2 linked regions of the Homo sapiens genome follow. The protein of the gene in region 2 interacts with the protein of the main gene of each other region in a biochemical or structural test. Each region holds a gene or a part of one and is shown on either strand. Other genes may lie near its edges.

Region 1 (3,500 bases), on a different chromosome or scaffold from region 2:
TTACTTGGCGGGGCAGAGGCTGCAGCGAGCCAAGATCATGCCACTGCACTCCAGCCTGGGAACCTGTCTCAAAAAAAAAAAAAAGAAAAGAAAGTTGAGTCTGTAACTAGAATACTGCTTCAGGATAGATTTCTCCAAATCTCTACACAAATAAAAGCTCTTCTTTCCGCTCAGTCATTAGGGAGACTGACGGAAAAGTTTAAGAATCACTGCCTCCAAGTCTCTTCCAATGCTAAGCTGCCATGCTGACAGTCAAGGCTGGAGATGCCATATCTCATTCCATTTGTTGCTGGATAATTAATAGAGAGGAAGACATTGGAAATTACCTTTCCAATCATTCCTGTTTACTAAATATATTCCTGCAGTCCCGTAGCCATACAAATGCATAATATGATGCATTTGATGGTTTTTGTATTATATAATATTTTATATTCTTTAGTACTGCCAAATAGCTAGGGTTCTCCAAAGTGTATGAAAAACAGAAACTTGCACAAACCTTAACTTGTAGATATAAAAAATTGCTTGATTTATCAGCTCCTTTAGAGGATAGCAAGTTGAAATGTTTGCACCCTCCAGCTTTTGCCAGCTCTGCAGACTTCAGCACATAATCTCGGTCAACACGAACAAATCCCTCCTAAGGGGGAAAAGGACATGAGTTATTTCCAAAAAGCAGCAAGTTCATCTTAAAGATTACTACTTGGCTTGGGTAGCAGGCTGGGAGGCCTAGAAGGATGGAGATCTAAATAAAATGTGTCCAAGCAATACATGAAAGTCAGGCTTAGACCCTGGGAAAGGCTCCAGGTCTGGTCCTCTGGATAGGCACACCAGCTTTAGCAGCAAGACTGGACTGCAATAAGGAAACAAGGACAATGACATTGAAACACAGACACCAAACAAATCTGCAAAGAACAAAGGGAACAGTAAGATCAGGCTGAGAAACTACTTTTAAGCCAGACTTTTTTTTTTGTCTTAATAACTTCACAACTTTACACTCCTGTTTTCTGTGTCAATTCTAATGTGGTAGGGTCTCCGAGTATGGGTGAGGACACTCCCCAGGCACTAAGAGAACAAAGTCTATTTAATTCCCAATTTTTGTGTATGCTCTACAATGTACCTCACACATTAGTAAAGAATGCATCCTCAAACGTTTTTATTAATGGGTCTCTAGTCAAAAGTGTTTGGAGACACCCAATCTAGATTCAGTCCAGTGAAGGCAGTGGCTGGGTCTTTTTTCTTAATTCATCTCTCAGCATCAGCACATGTCCAGCATATGGTAGATGCTCCAAAAATGAATGAACAAAACGCCAATGAAAGCAGAGAAAAGGTAAATCCAGTCAGAAACAAACAGAACTAAGTGGCAATAAAAGGGGGAGGGAAGAGAATGACACAAATAACAGAATATAGACTCACTTCCAGGGCCTAACTGAAAAGCATGCACCTTTACCCAGAAAAGGGAATTCCAAGGAGTAACAGTCTCTTGAGACCACCATAAATTCTGGCATCTTCAAACCCAAGACAGCTGAAGACAAGTCTAAAGTCTATTGAAGCTGAACTTTATAGGTAGTCACAATTACAGAATGAGGTCTTAGAGTAGTAGGAATTCCAAATCTGAAGACTGGACTACTGCCCCAGTGATTGATTGATTGAGACAGTCTTGCTCTGTTGCCCAGGCTGGAGGGCAGTGGCGTGGTCTCCACTCACCACAACCTCTGCCTCCTGAGTTCAAGTGATTCTCCTGCCTCAGCCTCCCAAGTAGCTGGGATTATAGACACATGTCACCATGTCCGGCTAATTTTTGTATTTTAGTAGAGACAGGGTTTCACCACGTTAGCGAGGCTGGTCTTGAACTCCTGACCTCAGATGACCCGCCCACCTTGGCCTTCCAAAGTGCTGGGATTACAGGTGTGAGCCACCGCGCCCGGCCTGATTTTTTTTTTTAATTAAAAAATTTGCTCCTCAGTAGTTACTGATTCTAAATGTTCTATTTGGTAGGGCGATGTGTATCTTTCACAGAATGTTAGAAGGTACCTTAGGAAATATCACATCCAGTCCCCTCATGATATAGACAGGAACCAAGGTCCAGTGGGCGGGTGAACTGTTAGCTGGGAAGTGGGAGAGCCGAGAGCAGAGTGCAGATTCTGGACTCTGAGCAGTGCTCTTTTCACTGTACCCATGTTCCTTTTTTATCCCCCACCCTCTCTCGCTAATGAAAATGACTAATCCGTGATTGTGGTAGGCAGAATAATGGTCCCTCAAAGATGCCCACGTCCTAATCTTTGTGAATATGTCATGTTACATGACAAGGGGGAATTCCATCACAGATGGTATTTAGGCAGAAGCAAGATGAATCATGCTAAAACAACAACAACAAAAAAACTGAATTTATTTCACCAGTCAACTGTGTCATTTTGTTGTAACAAACACATTATTAAAATCAGAGTTCTAGTGAACTGGCATGAGGGGAAGAAATAGATGTGGAAGGGAAATTCAGTGTTTTAGAAATTCAGTGTTTAGAATTAGGGTGCTAATCAGCTGGCCTTGAAACAGAGAGATTAGTTTGAATTATCCATGTGGGCCCAATGTAATCACAAGGGCCCTTAAAAGTAAAAGAACGAGGCAGAAGAGCAGGCTGGAGTAATGCAACCTAAGAAGGGCTCAGCTACCACATTGCTGGCCTTAAGGATGGTAAGGGGACCACAGGCCAAGGAATGGGGGTGGCCTCTAGAAGCTGAAAAACGTATGGAAATGGTTTCTGTCCTACAGCCTCCCAGAAAGGAATGCAGCTCTGTCAACACCTTGATTTTATCTCAGGTAAACCCGTGTCAGACTTCTAAGATGATAAATTTGTGTTGTCTTAAGCTGCTAAATTTGAGGAATTTATTAAAGCAGCAATAGGAAACTAATACAGAATTCAATTTTAAAACAATACGCCCATGCAGATTTTTTAACTTTGTATGGAAGTGTATCATAAAAGTAAACATAAGTATAGAGCTCAATAAATTTTCATAAACTGAACATGCTCTGCCACCAGTTCCAAGATCAAGAAATAGAACATTACCATTACTGTAAAAGCCTTCCTCATCCTCCTTTCCCATCACTCACAAGTACATTTTTAACTATATCCACCACCTGGAGGACAGTGTTATTTTTCTGCCTTACTTTTTCTACCTTAGTTTGTGGGTAATATAAACTTACCTCTTTACTCACGAGTCATCACCATCTCCTTTTGTATACTTTTTGTTGTATACTTTGACACTCAGTCCTGAACAACGGACTTGCCAAGCTGTCTATATACCGACTCAAATTCATGCAGTTGCTTTTAAAATTAGTGTAAAGCAAACCAATTTAAGTACTCAGCACATCCTGAGAGAAGTGATTACCCTCAGAGCCATTCTCCAAATGGAGACTTTAGATGTGCTGAAAGTGTGCCAAGAGAAACAGCCCAAAACTACATAGAAAAATTCTAAGACACTAAATTTTTCTTCCACATCTGTTTCTTC
Region 2 (5,470 bases):
ATAGAAGACAATGTCTGAAGCCTTGGTATAGATCCAAATACTCTCAGTGGTATCTAAGAACAAAATTTTTATTACTAGAAATTCTCTTCACAAATACCTAGTGGGGTAGTAAATTTGCAAAAGTAGTCCTCTTATAAGATAATGTAGATTATAAGATGCTTTAGTAAACTCTGGAATGTCATTCCAATGACCCAAGACCACACATCTCTATCCACTAAACGTATCTGTTAACCTAGCTCAACTACTGATTATGCTGAAATAAAGTTGTTTTTGTTACATCACCATCAGTTCCAGTGGCTGAAACCATAAACTGAAGATGCATATTACTAACAATGCCAGTTAGTTTTAGATATTTTGAATCCATGTTTTGGGTTGCTAGACAGCCACCTTGGAAGTCTGATACTGAGGTGCTATTCACAGGAAGAGCCCCAAATTCACCACCCTGTGTGCCATGATACAGTATAAAATTTACTGTAGGTTGTTCATCTCTCTAAAGTAAACGTCACATTAACATCTCTCAGCATATAAAACCAGGAAGTAAGAGTTCCTCTGTGACACAGAGACTGCCTAAAACATGATGGAAACAGATTTAAAGTGAATGCAGCAGAAGCAGTTCTTTAACCCAAAAGGAAAGGGATAAGGGTTATAAGATAATAGATAATATAGTCTACTTCGAAACATATTTGGCATACACATTTACCAAGATTAATCTTACCTGAAATACAAACATATGCCTTCCTGCGGGAACAGGACCCACTAAAACAGAGTCTAAAACTTGATCGTATTCTTCACTTTCTGCAGAGCCCACATAGATAATTTTCCATTCCAAGTCTAGGGTTAAAAAACCAAAGCATTATTTCATATTCAGTAATTACATTACCAGATGACATCAAAGACCCTTTTAATGTCCACTTAGCCACTTACTGGCTTTAAAATTGGCTTCTCATAGCAATCCAGAAAGGCAGTGAAATGCTCCTTATAAAGTTCCTACCAGAGTTCACACTTTGATCAGAGTTTCTCAAAATACTCTTTTGTGAAACACTAGTTCCTGGACAGTGCCTCACAAACAAGATAACATAGCCAAACACTTGGGAAATGCTGTAAACCTTGTCTTGAGGATTCATAAAGCATGCTGGCACAGTAAGTTTTCTGAGATATCCTTCAGTAAAGAACACCAGTAACATTAATCCAGCACTTCCCAAATTTATTTGGCTATGGAATCCCCCTTTTTTTGTATATCATCTTTTAAGGCCCTTCTCAACACACTTTGGAAGGGCAGCCCTATACTACGCTGCAGAGATCCAAATAATCACAGAGCTCCAAAGTAGAAAAATTATTAGTAAAACCTCCCTCATGGCTCAGAAGTAAGTGGCTTCAGCTCATCAACTGTCAACGAACAATGGTAGGGTTTTTCCCTTACGGCACCCCCCTGTGTCATACATTCTTTAAATTGGGCAGAGGAAACCAAGATCTTTACACCACGTGATACAATAGAGTATACACAGTGGAGATAGGCAGGAGGAAAAGACATTCAGGTGCAATTCAAGGCGTTATATGTAATTCAATATAGCGGATTTTACTGAGCATGTTTTACAATGTGTTCTGTGAAGTGAACCCAGAGATGAGTAGAACTCTTTGGAGGAGTCTCCTGTTTAGCTGAGGAAGAAGATAACTTTGTAATACAAACCATCTCTGAGAGACCTCTTCATCTTCTTTGGGTATTTTGCACTGTGTGGCCTGCCTCTTGCATTCAACACACTGTTACACAAGCACTCCCAAAGGGTGAGTTTCTGGGTCACTCATGACAATCTAGTTAGTGCCACCATGTGTGGCCATTTTTGTGTAACTGTAGATATTTTTGTTCCCTAAATTGATAATAGAAATAGTAACGTACTGCTTATTTATATTGTATTGTAAACTACAATCAACTGAAAGCTCCTTTTTTATTTTCTCTTATTAAGTCAGCAATCATTTTCTGAGGACCTATTATGTCATGGCTCTGTCCTAGAACTAAACCATTTCTATTTCCAGCTTCCAGCACACTTCCAGATGCAGGGTGCTGCATCTGACATCTCCTGAGATCATCTGTTGATGGAGATAGAGAGGAAGTAGGCAATATAAGTATCTCGCCAGAGGGAACAGCAAATACAAAGGCCCAGGGGTAGGGCACACTTGGCAAGAAAAAGCAAGGAGGCTAGGGCTGGAGCAGAATGAAAGGAAGGAGGAAAGCACCAAACCCTATGATTGAGGATGAGGGGAACAGCCAGATCATGCGGTTTTGAAGGCCATCATAAGGACTCTGGCTTTCACACTGCGTGGCATGGGAAGCCATCGAAGGGTTTTGAGCAGAGCAGTAACAGGAGCCAACTTTCATTTTAAAAGGAATGCTTTGATTGCTGTGTTCAATATAGAGTGTAAGAGGACAAGGGAAGAAACAATATTTCAATAATTGAGGCAAGAAATTATGGTGGCATGGACCTCGTGTGGCCATGGGGCTGTGCAACAGTTATATTCTGGATAAAATCCTGAAGATGAAAGCAGCAGGAGCCACTTTTGCAGGGAGGTGATGTGGGGTAGGGGAGCAATCAGGAGTTCATTTTAGACATATTTGAGATGTCTGCTTCTAAGCAGAGATACTGAATAGGCAGGATAAAAATTTGGAACCTGTCAATGATATGTAAAGCCATAAAAATACATGGGCTTGCTCTAGGGAGTGAGATTTGAGCCCTCCAAAGATAAGAGGACAAATTAAGTTACAAAACAAGTGGCAAATGAGGTAGGTGACCCAAAAGCCAAGTGAAGAAACTGTTTTAAGAAAGTGATGTGAAAGGTACTAAACTAGCCAAGTGAGGATAAGACTAAGAATTATCACATAGAGTGGCTGGGCGCAGTGGCTCACGCCTGTAATCCCAGCATTGTGGGAGGCTAAGGTGGCTGGATGGCTTGAGGTCAGGAGTTCGAGACCAGCCTGGCAAACATGGTGAAACCCCATCTCTACTAAAAGTACAAAAATTAGGGGTGGCACATGCCTGTGGTCCCAGCTACTCGGGAGGCTGAGGCACAAGAATCGCCTGAACCCTGGAGGCGGAGGTTGCAGTGAGCCGAGATCGCGCCACTGCACTCCAGCCTGGGCAATGGAACGAGATTGTCTCCAAAAAAAAAAAAAAAAAATTATTACATAAAGGTTTTCATGAATTTTAATTTCATATATAATTGTATCACTACATATAATGCCCTTGATCCTAAGTGGTATAAATTCGCATTTGTGGACTGGCATAGGAACATAGCCATAATTTATAAACCTATTTTAGAAAATACCTACTATATACTGGGCATTAGTTCTACTTCATACCTATTGTTTAAACCTCAACAGCTTCATCATGTAGATCAAATTATCCCCATTATGCAAATAACTTGAGACTCTGAGAGGTTAAGTAATCTACACAAATTCATAATTTGTACATCAAAGAATCAGAATCCAAGCTATGCCTCTGTAACTACAAACCCCGGGCTTCTTCTGAAAACCTAACTGGGAAGATAAATTCTTTCTAGCTCTGAAATTAGCAGTGGAATAAGGGAATTTATTTGCAGGGGAAGTGAGAGCAGAGGAGATGGAGAGAGAATCTAGCCTTAACAAGAACAGGCTGCAACTCAGGGAACACTTGTACATTGATTTTTATGTTTATGGGATGCTTGCTACAGTTGCTGAGTTTTACATGCTCAATACCCTTTTATACATTGGCATCAGTTTTTTTGTTGTTTTTTTTTTTAACCCAGCTTTCATTTAATTCCTCTGCCCCCTGTATTTGAGGGAGGAAGGGTAAGGTCAGATGTTTTACATAAGTTCTCAGGTGAAGAAATTTGTTCATTTATTTTAAAGTTAACTTTTATTTAATCACAGTAATCATGATTAAATGATTTACCCAGCCTGAAAGTATTTACATTTGTGGTGAAAGAGTGAGTGAATGAGGGAAGTCATCAAGAGAATTTTTAGCTAATTACACTACTTGGGAAGACCTGTGGTCTAGTGGAAAGTATGTAGGCTTTGGAATTAGAACAAGCTGAAGTTGGAAAGTATGAAGCACCATGCTCAATTCTGGTATATTATAAGTATTCAATTGACAGTAGCTGTAATTAAGATATATATATATATAAATTTAAGAATGGCAGGATGGTCAATCAAAACTTGTACAGTCTTGGTGACCATCAAGCACATCCAGCCAGGGTCTCAGGCTGTCTTAACCCTTGATATAAGCCCTATATTAGAAAGAACCAAATTATCTTAAGACCAAATATTCCTCAAGGCTTTTTCTGAAGCAAAGCTACAGGGCAGCTCTTAAAGGAAAGTGAACGTTTGGGGCTACTGATGAAAGTATGAAAAACGGTGGCCAAACTCTGCTTTGAGACTTGAGGCAAAATAACTTATTAAGAAAATTCTTTTCAAAATATTCTATAGTTTGGGCTGGGTGCAGTGGGCTCACTATAATCACAACACTATGGGAGGCAGGGGTGGGAGGACTGCTTGAGCCCAGGGGTTCGAGACCAGCTTGGGCAACATGGCAAAACTCCGTCTCTACAAAAAATTAAAAAATTAGCCCAATGTGGTGGCACATCGACTATGGTCCCAGCTATTCAGGAGGCTAAGGTGGGAGGATTGCTTAAGCCCAGGTTGAGGCTGCAGGGAGCAGCTGTGTTTGCACCACTGTACTCCATCCAGCCTGAGTGCCAGAGCAACACTGTCTCATTTAAAAAAAAAAAAATTCTATAGTTTAATTTTAAGAACAGAATTTTTAAAAGAACTGTAATATAAAAGTATGGAACCTATTAGAAGCCTTTGCTAAGTAAAAATTTCCTTAATCCACATAGCCTCTAGGTGGAGTATACAGGCATGGCACCTTTTTGAAAGATTCCTTTGCAGCTTCAGTATGACTCAGCTTAAAATATTTTTTAAAATACTAAATAAATGCTCAGTAATGGTGCCTAGGAAGTGAAATATACCATTGGAAATAAGTATGTTTTTGACACCAGTACTGTAAATCCCTGATGTGATTCAGCTGGGTTCTGAATGGATCCCAGTTAAAAATGGAACGTTTTGGCTTTATGAATGGCTGGTTTCATCTATGCAATGTAAAAGCCCTGTAACGACATCCTGAGTCATCTATCTTCTTTGTTCAGAGCTGACTCCTAAAATGGAAGGCAACACTTGAGAAATACCTGTAATTTGAAGAACTTCTGGTGGTATATCTGAAAAACAGTGTGGTATAAGTTGGAATGGACCGATCAATGGTTTTTCTTTTGTCTATTTTTATATGCAGTTGGCAATAAAAAAAAAATTACTGTTGGGTGTGAAAAATGGGCCTGGTAGCTGCAATGCTTATATTAATAGTAGTATCATAGGAGAGTAATCAAATGACTTCAGAGTAATAAGAAAAATACCCCTTAGTGTTATCAATGGCCTATTTGAAATTAT

What was found. Proteins that work in one complex are often made in the same cells at the same time.
Region 1: the proteins of ASF1A (region 2) and HTATIP2 form a complex in vitro, tested with the Homo sapiens proteins (one study listed by BioGRID).

What each region holds. Positions count from the first base shown.
Region 1 is NC_000011.10:20,373,714-20,377,213, reverse strand, and holds part of HTATIP2 (protein HTATIP2), read right to left. Parts: intron 635-3,500; coding exon 497-634; intron 1-496. UniProt on the Homo sapiens protein: Represses translation by preventing reactivation of elongation factor eEF1A. May also inhibit nuclear import by competing with nuclear import substrates for binding to a subset of nuclear transport receptors.
Region 2 is NC_000006.12:118,896,127-118,901,596, reverse strand, and holds part of ASF1A (histone chaperone ASF1A), read right to left. Parts: intron 832-5,470; coding exon 716-831; intron 1-715. UniProt on the Homo sapiens protein: Histone chaperone that facilitates histone deposition and histone exchange and removal during nucleosome assembly and disassembly.